2 separate regions of the Homo sapiens genome follow, and region 2 is linked to region 1. The links come from fine-mapping of genetic effects on gene expression. A gene starts in region 1. The other region holds a variant in brackets. All regions are shown on one strand. Distances are from middle to middle. Region 1 holds the start of PROK2 (prokineticin 2). Region 2 has its middle 22 kb from the start of PROK2.

Region 1 (5,381 bases):
AGGGGTTGTACCCCATGAGGTTGGTATTTTATAACCATTTTACAAGACCGGAAACAGAGGCTTCAAAAGGTTGTGTAACTTGCCCAGTGGTCACACAGGATTCCAATCCTGATCAGCCTGTCTCACAAACATTGGGTTCTATAGACGCTCCTAGATTGCATTTTCGTTTAAGCTGAGCCTTGATGGTCTGCTGGAATATGGTAGGCTACACTTTACACACACAAGGCTCATTTCACCTAATACAGTTATGCCTGGGCAGAAGTGATCATGTGGCAATATCAACAGGTTACAGTAATAGAAAAGAATCAATAAACTACTGTTTCATTTCTATGTCATTGTTGCTAAGTTGTCCCAACTACCTTTTTTAATGGACTAATCCAAACTCTTTTTTTTTTTCATTTTTCCCTTTATAACAATTGAAGTCAGACTTCATTTTTCAAACTTGGCCTCAGATACAAAGATGACATATCAAGAGCCTTCATTTCTCTCCTAAAGCATTAAAGCAATTAAAATTTCCAAAAGAACATGAAACTAAACAACCCTATTTTTAAGTGTTTCCAAACTTATTTCTTTTTTTTAAACTTGTTTCAAAACAGCCTTATGAGGACTGTTTTCCAAACAGCTGTGTAAGAAGCCAGCCACTTTTGAAATCTGATTTTTCCTGTGTAGACATATCATATTTTCTATGCTTGAAGAAGCAGGGAATACCCAAGCTGGCATTCAATAGTAGCGAATATGAAATAGACCATTAAAAGAAAGTCATAGGAATGTTAAAATCCATGTTGACTGGTTTTTACATTTACCCGGCAGCATTCCCGAGCTAGCGTTGGCATGGAGACTGGAAAAGGAAACTTTCCACAAGTCTGTCACTTGCTACTGTTTCTACTTACTCCACTGTGAGTCCAATTTTAACATTTTTTTAAGTTGAAAAAAGGGTTTGACTCCTTTTGTGTTTTCTGTTCAAGGCGTTTTTTAAACATGAGAACACGTGTGAAAAAGGTTTTTAAAAATCAGCCAAAGATTGGGGTTTCCAAATATTCAGCTGTTTAACATTCAGATAATTGCCTGCCTTCCCCCCGCTATCCCCCACATTTCGTCTGAATGCTTTGGCACGGGGGAGCCCCACAGTCTGAAAGTAACTCTGTCCCAACTCTCCTTACTGCATTTATTAAAGAGGCTGAAAGACGCATCTGCTTTTCAATAGTTTGCGGTTCTTAAGAGACCAGGAAAGCCAGAGGTTCTGACTATTCAGGAAGAAAGTTGGGTTTCCCAAAACGGGCAAGCAAGTTCGGTGTGGTCACATCTAGGTATTCTTGACGTCATTTTTGTTGAGGGAAACAGGCTGCAGTTTTTGGAGCCAGGCTAGGATGAGAGATGGAGGGCAAATCTGTCACTTATTCTTTCCTGGTGTGCCTGGAACCCACTAGACACTCAATTCATGTTTACGTGAATGAAGGAATCACAATAACGCCCTATCGCATCTGTAAAACCGAAGGGTGATTTTCCTGGGCTGGAAAGTTTAAGAAAGAAGAGAGAGCTGCGTACCTAGGGCTTAAGGGGCCTCAGGCTGGCACTCGAAACCAGGCGTTCTCATTTCCCTTTGGCATCACCCTGAACGGCTGTGCCTGGAGCTGGCGCGGGGCTGAAGAGGGGAGGAAATACATGTGAGGAAAATCAGAGGAGAGGGTCGGGAACAGATGTGGGCATAAAGGGAAGGCCTCTGACTTGAAATAAACAAATAGGAGTCCCGCAGCTGGAAGGACAAATCCTTTCACGTCGCGGGTGATGTGGGATTGGGGCGATTTTGCTCTCCCTTTGTTCTTTCCCCTGCCTTCCACGTTTCCAGGGTATTTGATTGATGTCTGTCTTCTCTGTTAAGTTATTCCACCGTGAGGAGAGAGCCGGTGGCAGTACCTGGCACGCAGCGGGCGCCCAGTATAGACCTGCTGAACAAACGAATGGATTCAGGGGCTGCTGTGTCCCCCTCACCCACCCCCCGCCCCCTATGTGTCCACAGCGCCCCGCACGTAGTAGGCGACCCCTAAACATCTGTACAGCAAATGATTTGCAAGTTTTCGGCGCTGAGCACGTGGAGCTTTGGAAACCAGGACAGCAAATGAGTGTCTCGGAGACCACAAAAGCGGTTCCGGCGCGTGCGAAAGGCGGTGGCTGGGCGACGGCGGAGGGAACGGCGCAGAGCGGGGCGCCCCGCCGGGAGCGCTGCCTGCGTGGCGCCCGAGGCGGGGGCGCGGGGGGCCGCGCATAGCACGTGCTCGTCTGGGAGCCGGCCGGGCCGAGGCGGGCGCGCGTGTGCGCGTGGGGCGTGGGGTGTGTGCCCGCGCCGTGCCCCCCGCGTGTGCTGCCGGGCGGGCGCCGGCGTGAGTCACGGCGGGGCTAGCCTTTATAACGGCCCGGAGGCTCGCGGGAGCCGCCGCGCCCGTCCGCCCGCCGCTCCGCGCTCCACCCAGCGCACCCGGGCCCCGCGCCCCCAACTGCCTCCGGCGGCCGCCCAGTCCCGAGGGCGCCATGAGGAGCCTGTGCTGCGCCCCACTCCTGCTCCTCTTGCTGCTGCCGCCGCTGCTGCTCACGCCCCGCGCTGGGGACGCCGCCGTGATCACCGGGGTAAGCGGCCCGGGCGCACCTGTCTGCCCCTGATGCGCGCCTGGGATGTGCCCAGGGGGCTTGGGACGGGGACCCTGAAGGGCAGGCTAGAGGCAAAGGGAGGGTCGCCCTGGGCGGGGACACCTGCCCCTGTCGCCCCTTGGTGCACTTGGGAAAATACCCAGATCCAAAAGCAGCAGACGGCTGGGGACACTGGGCGCGTCCTGGAAGAAACAGTGACAAGGATGTCGCCCACCACCTTTATTACCACCTTCTCCCGCTTACTTCTCCCTCATCACCCACGGCCTCACTCCTCGCATTTTTCTTCTGTTAGGCTGAAAGAAGTTTCTCTCTGAGTCTTCTCAAGTACTTTTGGAGGCTCTCCAACCTCGAACCTTAAAATTTGACGGCCCCTTCCTGAAATGCAAAGGACCAAGACGAATTCCCCAAGTGCCCAGAGTCTTAATCCTACAGTCAAAGAGTTTGCTCCCCGATGCGTCCTCCGCAGAAACCCTTTGAAATCGCTTGGTCCAGGGCCATGTGAGCGCTTTGAAAAGCAATTGTGGGAGCTTCCTTCTGGGTTCCGGGGCTTTCCCCCGCGCTCAGGGTCTTGAGGTATCCCCATAAAAGTTTTAAATTTCTAATTCCTGGCAAAGCACCTCCAGTGCTCCAGCATAATGATGGAGTAGGTTGCTGTGTAGATGTTTAAACTTAGAGACGATGTTTTCATCTTTTCTGTAAGTAGGAACTAGTTCAGTTCTCTCCCACTCTCAACAATTTTGTGTGGATCTGAAAAAATTGGGTTTGCAGTACAATACTAAATAGTCTAGTTTACATTAACAAGGCAAAACTGCTATCATTTCCTGGTTGTTCAACTTCTTTACTGTTTTTTAAGTGAGGAATTATTTCACACCTTCATTAAATTACTTCAAATATTTAAGTGCACATAATGGGATTTAAATAAAACGTCTATGTTTGAAATGTTGATACATAGATAATATCATTTGACTTTAAAGGAAGTATCTTTGTCTTGAAAAAATCAAGCTCTATTTTCTCTATATTAGTTATTAGGTTTATAGAATTTTGAAAGTCCTTTTGCTATGACAGCATTTGTATATATCCAACAGATATTTAACTGTAAGCTCTGTGATATTTATTAGAAAAGAGATTTTTTCAAAAAATTACTTGCATAGCTTTGCCAGTCCATGTGGTTGAGAAAAACTTTTTGCAGGTCTTTCTAATACATGAGAATTGAAACATGATTGGATTTTTTTCTCCCTCTTCTCCTGCTGGCTCATTTAAAGTTTCTCCTAATCCTCTGAGCCCAAGATCCCTTTGCAATATAAGTATCTTTTTGTTCCATTCACAGGACAACACTATCTGAATAGATTTGCAATGGGTTAAGGATGAAGGGCATTAGGAAACAGCTGTCTAATTAAAAATATATAAACCTATGCAACTCTTTGTAAATTTTCCAAGAACTGAAGCTTTTGTTACAAAATAAAATTTTATCACATTGGCTGTCTATCTGTTAGAGAGGCTTAGACTGGGCTTATTATATAGTTATGTGTGCTGTTTTTGTTGTTGTTATTTTAACTCAGTGTTACAAAAAGAGAATTTTAAAAATGTCTCTAAAGCAACAGGGCAATAAAATGTAGTTATGTCTCCATGACAGGAACCATCTGGATTCAAATGAAAAACTCAGTAACTTATCAAGATACATTGTGTATAGCATGTTAAACATCCAGGTGATTGAATTTTAAAAGATTTTGGCTGGATTTTTGATTGGTTCATAAAAAAAAGCTCATGGGGCCTCAAAATTCGAGGTATTGAGCATCTGTTGAAATAAAATGCTGGCTAAAACTTTCACCTGACATCCACAGTTTTTTGGGTAGTGTATGTAGGTATTTTGAAATTGATTTATATGCCCACATAGATTTGTTAAAACTATATTGTAAAAGATCATTGACTAGACATCTTATTTATGGGATGTAATGGCTACATATACATGATTTCTGGCATGCAGATAAAAATTGGAAAATTGAAACATTTACATATTGTCCTATAAAATCCAAACACCTCAAGGTGAAATTTTTAGCTTTTATCCAGATACTTTGTTTAAATAGACTGAGAAATAAATTCTAATGAGGGAAGTAAATGAACTTTAAAGCAAAATAGTTGGTTACTTTTAATGAGAAATAATGTTAAGAATGTACCCATATTTTTATATCTTGAGAAGTTATGACTGTCCTCAAAACTAAGAATTTTGAAGGACTGTTTTAGTTGTTTCCACTAATTGTACATTTAAATTTGTGCCTAGATGATAGAGGTTTTAGTTTCTTACATATATAGTACAGGATGTTTTTATCTTATCACTACCAAAACAGATTACTGCCCACGGTTCAAACAAAGCATTCTATTTTTTGTTGGTTCTAGGAAAGAATAATAGTTCTTCAGATCCATTTTCATGCAAATAGATTTAGATTTTATTATTTATTTCTATTTACTAGAGTATGGAAATTCCTCCATAGTTGATTGTTTCATTGTATGTATTTACAACTTTTATATTGAAAGCAGGTGACTTGAGTAATTACTATTGACAATTGCACCTGTTACTTGCATTTCTTAATTTGATGGATCTTACAGGATTGTTAGCTGATTTTGTAATGTACATATATGTTTATGCTAAGCCAGTAATTTGCTCTTTGCAGCTTATTCACCTGAAGGAAGAGTAACATAAGGCAAGCATCTTGGTCTGTCCACTTTCAAACTATGAGACT
Region 2 (5,381 bases), 22 kb before region 1:
AAGTGGCACCACCATCTACTCCTCAGCTGCCTAAGCCAGAAAGCAGGTGCCATCCTCTCCCTCACGCTTCTCATCTTCTTAATTACAAAATACAGTGAAACTGACTTCCTTAATATTGCTTAGATCTATCCACCTGGCTTCATCCTCATTCTTACTCCCTTAGACCAGGCCACAGGGTGACAGACACACTTTCAGATTTGCTAATTTCAATCCATCTCCACCCTGCAGCCAGGATGAACCGTCTGAGCTCTTCATCTGATTGGGGCTGTCCTAGGCTTGATGTTCTTTATAGCTTCTCTCAGGGAAAAAGACTATCGGACATTAACCTATGTACCATTGCAGATTCTTTCAATTTCTTCATTTCTGAAGAAGCTCAGCTTGGCCATGGATGAACATCCCAAGCTGCCTGGGGCCCAAGTTGAAGCCGTGGGCCGGTTGAGTCTACACACCAACCTCTGCTTTGAGTCATCCCTCCACTTCCAGAATGGGATGAAATGTCGCATGATGGAGCATGACATCTGGCTTCCTGGGCAGCCTCCAAGCACCAGATGCTGCAACCCAGAAGTGTGGGGAAATTAACTCCCCATGGATGCTCCCTAAATAAGGGAAAACAAGAGGTAGAATGAGCTGGGCAGATTAATTCCTCCTTCTTTCTATTTTCATGGCCTACTAAAAGACAGGGTTTCTTCCCACAGCCTTTCCAGAGCAGTCCCATGTCCCAGGCAGACTCACCTGCTAAGCCACCTGCTATGCCTCTTTTCAGCTCCTTGTAACATGGTGGCCCCACAGCAGTGTGTGACAGTCTCCTCACCATGCTTGGCTTCTTTATTTGCGATACTTCCCTTTTTAACTTACCTTTTAAACCTTGGACTTGCACCTCCGGAATTGTTAGCACTTTAGTTTTTGACTCAGGCTCTACTTTCTGGAGGACCTGGCCTTAGACAAGAGCTGAACTTCTTGGCCACTGCCTGCATCACTGACTTCATCTCTCTTTCTATGTACTGAACCCTTTCCTAGCTACCACCGCCTGCAGTGTCACAGATGTGACACATTCTTTCTTTCCTCTTCCAGGCCTTTGGACATGACCTCTCACCGCTTTCCTGGGGAAATCTTAGGTCTCACCTGGGAAGCATTTTTTTAGACGACTGTTGCATCAGACTGGTTCAGGTACCATGTTTAGATGCCCATGGCACACTGTGCCTTCCTGGGAAAGGGCTTATCCCTCTTGTTTACTTGTTTGTCTTCTCCACCTGGCAGGAAGTTATTCACTATGTACTCTAGCACCTGCTTCAATGCCTGACACGTAGTGTCCAATAAATATTTGATTGGATAAACGAATACATGTTTTCAAAAGGAGACAAATTCCCTGGAAAAGGTACACAAGCAAGAAAATTTTGCAAGTGTTCAATTTTTGTCTATGAAAGCTTTAGTATACTTTTTAAAAAACTGAAGCATATTACATTCCATTTTTTTCTTTCTCACTATGAATCTTCATAGAAGTAAATACTTTAAAGTATAGTTTAATGGGTAGGGGTTTGTTGTTTGTTTGTAAAAATTTATGGAGTACAAGTATAATTTTGTTACTTGTATAGATTTTGTAGTGGTGAAGTCAGGGCTTCTAGGGTATCCATCAACCCAAATTATGTACATTACGCCCGTTAAGAAATTTCTCATCATACACTTCTTTCCATACCCCATCCTTCCAAGTCTTCCATGTCTGTCTTTGCGTACTCTGTGCCCATGTGTACACATTATTTAGTTCCCACTTATAAGCGAAAACATGTGGTATTTATCTCTCTATTTCTGAGTGGTTTCACTTAAGCTGATGGTCTCCAGTTCCATCCATGTTGCTATGGAAGACATGACTTCATTCTTTTTTGTGTCTGCTTAGTATTCCATTGTGTATACATACCACAGTTTCTTTATCCATTCATCTATTGATGGAAATGGTTAGGTTTCATGGGTAGGTATAAGTCTGGTTCCAAAACTAGACCTTTATGTTCAAATCCCAGCTCTTCCACTGACCTGTTTTGGGTTTAGTGTGTGTGTATGTATGTAACTTGACATATACCTGGTTTCCTCATGTGAAACATGAAGTAAATAATAGTCTCCACCTCATAGGATTGTTGAGAGAGTAAATAGCTAATATAGCTGAAGGGCTTGGCATATGTTTTGACACTGTGCTGAAGAAGGCATTGGCTACCATTACTATTATTATTCGAAGAAGACATTTTTAGTTTCATCTCCTACATAATTTTGCAGCCCACTAGGTAGTATATTTCTGGCTGTAAGGCTTGGAAAAACCCATCCTAAATGACATAAAAAATAAGGTGGCTGGGCATGGTGGCTCAAGCCTATAATCACAGTACTTTGGGAGACCGAGGCAGGTGGGTGGCTTCAATTCAGGAGTTGGAGACCAGCCTAGGCAACATAGTGAAATCCTATCTGTTAAAAAAGTACAAAAATTAGCCAGGTGTAGTGGCGCATGCCTGTAGTCCCAGCTACATGAGGGGCTGAGACAGGAGGCTTATTTCAGCCTGGGAGGTTGAGGCTTCAGTGAGCCCTCTTGCTGCCACTACACTCTAGCCTAGGCAACAAAATGAGACCCTGTCTTAATAATAATAATAATAATAATAATAATAATAATAATAATAATAATAATGAAATGGCTGGGCTCAGTGGCTCATGCCTATAATCCCAGCACTTTTGGAGGCCGAGGAGGGAGGGTTGCTTGAGGCCAGGAGTTTGAGACCAGCATGGGCAACATGGTGAAACCCCATCTCTATAAAACACTTCAAAAATTAGCCAGACGTGGTGGCACACGTCTGTAGTCCCAGCTACTCAGGAGGCTAAGGTGGGAGGATCACTTGATCCTGGGAGGTCAAGGCTGCAGTGAGCCCAGATCACACGACTGCACTCCAGCCTGGGCAACAGAGCAAGACCTTGTCTCAAAAATAAATAAATAAAAAATAAGACAGTAAGGAAATGTATTATCTTACCTAACTGGAAGGAGTGGCACCATCAGTAGCTGAAAGATGTCGTCAGATAACTGACTCTCTCC[G/A]TCTTTCTCATGATGTTGTAAGCCTCATTTCCAAGTGCCTCATAATAACAAGACAGTTGTCAGTGGCAACTGGAGCTACATACTTCTTTGTTCTCAACTACCTGGTCAAAAATGGAAAAACCACATCTCCAAGTGTGTAATATAAATGTTTCCTTCATTTTGATTGAACCAGTCCTAGTCACAGGACCAATGAGTCATGCAGGCAGGTGATGGGGGAATGGCACATGCCAATAGCCTCCTTAAGATTCACTCCTGGCCTGGCGCGGTGGCTCACGCCTGTAATCTCAGCACTTTGGGAGGCCGAGGTGGGCAGATCACGAGGTCAGGACATCGAGACCATCCTGGCCAACATGGTGAAACCCCGTCTCACTAAAAATACAAAAAATTAGCCGGGCATGGTGGTGGGTGCCTATAGTCCCAGCTACTTGGGAGGCTGAGGCAGGAGAATTGCTTGAACCGGGGAGGCAGAGGTTGCAGTGAGCCGAGATTGTGCCGCTGCACTCCAGCCTGGCGACAGAGTGAAACTCTGTCTCAAAAAAAAAAAAAAAGATTTACTTCTAGAGTCTCGGGTCACATTCTTCTAAGCTATACTTGGTCAGAATCGGAGTTGTGTTAGGAAGAAAGACACAAGTGAATGGATGCGGGGCAATCAGTGTTCACCAATGTACTATTGCTCTCAGAAAATATGGAGATGCCTCTTTTTTCATATTTTAAAAAACTTCTCAATTTTTAATTTTTTTTAAGTTTTAAATTTTTGGAAATAATTGTTTTGTTTTGTTAGTTTTTAGAAAAAGGATCTCACTCTGTTGCCCAGGCAAGAGTGCTGTGGCATGATGACAGCTTACTGCAGTCTCCGACTTCTGGGCTCAAACAGTCCTTCCGCCTCAGCTTCACAAAGTGCTGGGATTACAGGCATGAGAGAGGATGAATTCTAACACATTACATTGTGGTTAGAAACTATGTTACCAGATATAAGAAATAAAATAAAATTACATCTTCATATGTATATTTTATATATTTATAGCTAGCATTTATTGAGTGATTGCTTTGTGCCAGATCTGGCTTTGTGCCAGATAGTCACTCAGATACTATTAAGTGATTGCTTTGTGCCAGATACTACCCATCATTTCCATCAGCCTTCACAAATACCCTTATTTATTTCCTCAGAAAATACTTATGAAGCCCCTACCATACTTCAGGCACTGTCTTGTCACTGGGAATATAGCAACAGCAGGAAAAGACCAAGACCCAGTCCCTCATGGAAACTACATTCGAGAAATAGGAAACTGTGGCTGAGAGGGATTGAGTGAATTGCCCAAAGTTACACAGCTTGAATGTAGCAGAGTCGAGATTTGAACTTCAGAAGTCTAATCTAACTCCAAAGTCAAGAATGGGTGTATTAGTCTGTTCTTGCACTACTATAAAGAAATACCTGAGACTGGGTAATTTATAAAGAAAAGAGGTTTAATTGGTTCATGATTCCTCAGGCTTTACAGGAAGCATACTGGCTTCTGCTTTTGGGGTGGCCTCAGGAAATGTACAATCATGGCAGAATGTGAAGGGGAAGCAGGCACATGTTACATGGCCACCCCAGGAGGAAGAGAGAAATGGGGGAGGTGCCACACAGCTTTAAACAACCAGATCTTGTGAGAACTCACTCGCTATACTGTACCAAGGGGGGATGGTACTAAACCATTCATGAGAAACCCGCCCTCATGATCCAATCACCTCCCGCAAGTCCCACCTCCAGCATTGGGGGTTGTAATAATTCCAGTTCTCAGCCAATGGCAGGCTTCCTTCTTTCAAGCCTTGACTTTTCAGGGGAGAGCTCTCTGGGGCCTGGAGGAGGCATTGCTCTAGGGGTCAGGCACCATGCCCCACAGTGGCATCACTGCTTGAGAGCACCCAGAACAATGAAAGGCAGCCTGTGAGCCAGGGGAGGGTCCACTCAAACCAAGGGTGTATGGAGCAAACTGCGTAAGCATTGAGGCCCCAGGAGAGATTTGCACAGGAGATGCAGGTGCCCAGTATGATCAATCCCTCTCCCCAGACCTCCAGCCATCATTTGCAATAACCGAAGTTAACATTACCTGATGCTTTGCTTCTGGGGAACCAGTGTGCACAACCTCCTTAAAAAAAATAAGGGTTTGGCTGGGCTTGGTGGCTCACACCCATAATCCCAGCACTTTGGGAGGCCAAGGCAGGTGAATCACCTGAGGTAAGGAGTTCGAGACCAGCCTGGCCAACATGGCAAAACCTCATCTCTACAAAAAATACAAAAATCAGCCAGGTGTGGTGCTGCACACCTGTAATCCCAGCT

What was found.
Region 2: its variant is fine-mapped to the expression of PROK2 in whole blood (INTERVAL, PIP above 0.99).

What each region holds. Positions count from the first base shown.
Region 1 is chr3:71,782,198-71,787,578 of GRCh38, reverse strand. It overlaps PROK2 (prokineticin 2), which reads left to right and starts at 2,431. Exons shown (of 4, transcript NM_001126128.2): 1 at 2,431-2,622. The coding sequence starts at 2,527. It overlaps LOC105377156 (a long non-coding RNA gene), which reads right to left and starts at 2,189. Exons shown (of 4, transcript NR_199161.1): 1 at 2,056-2,189; 2 at 1,832-1,943; 3 at 1,546-1,642; 4 at 1,152-1,362.
Region 2 is chr3:71,804,649-71,810,029 of GRCh38, reverse strand. No RefSeq gene overlaps it. Among named protein-coding and RNA genes, the nearest start is that of PROK2, 22 kb to the right of the region's middle. The variant G/A (reference allele first, on the strand shown) is at 3,062.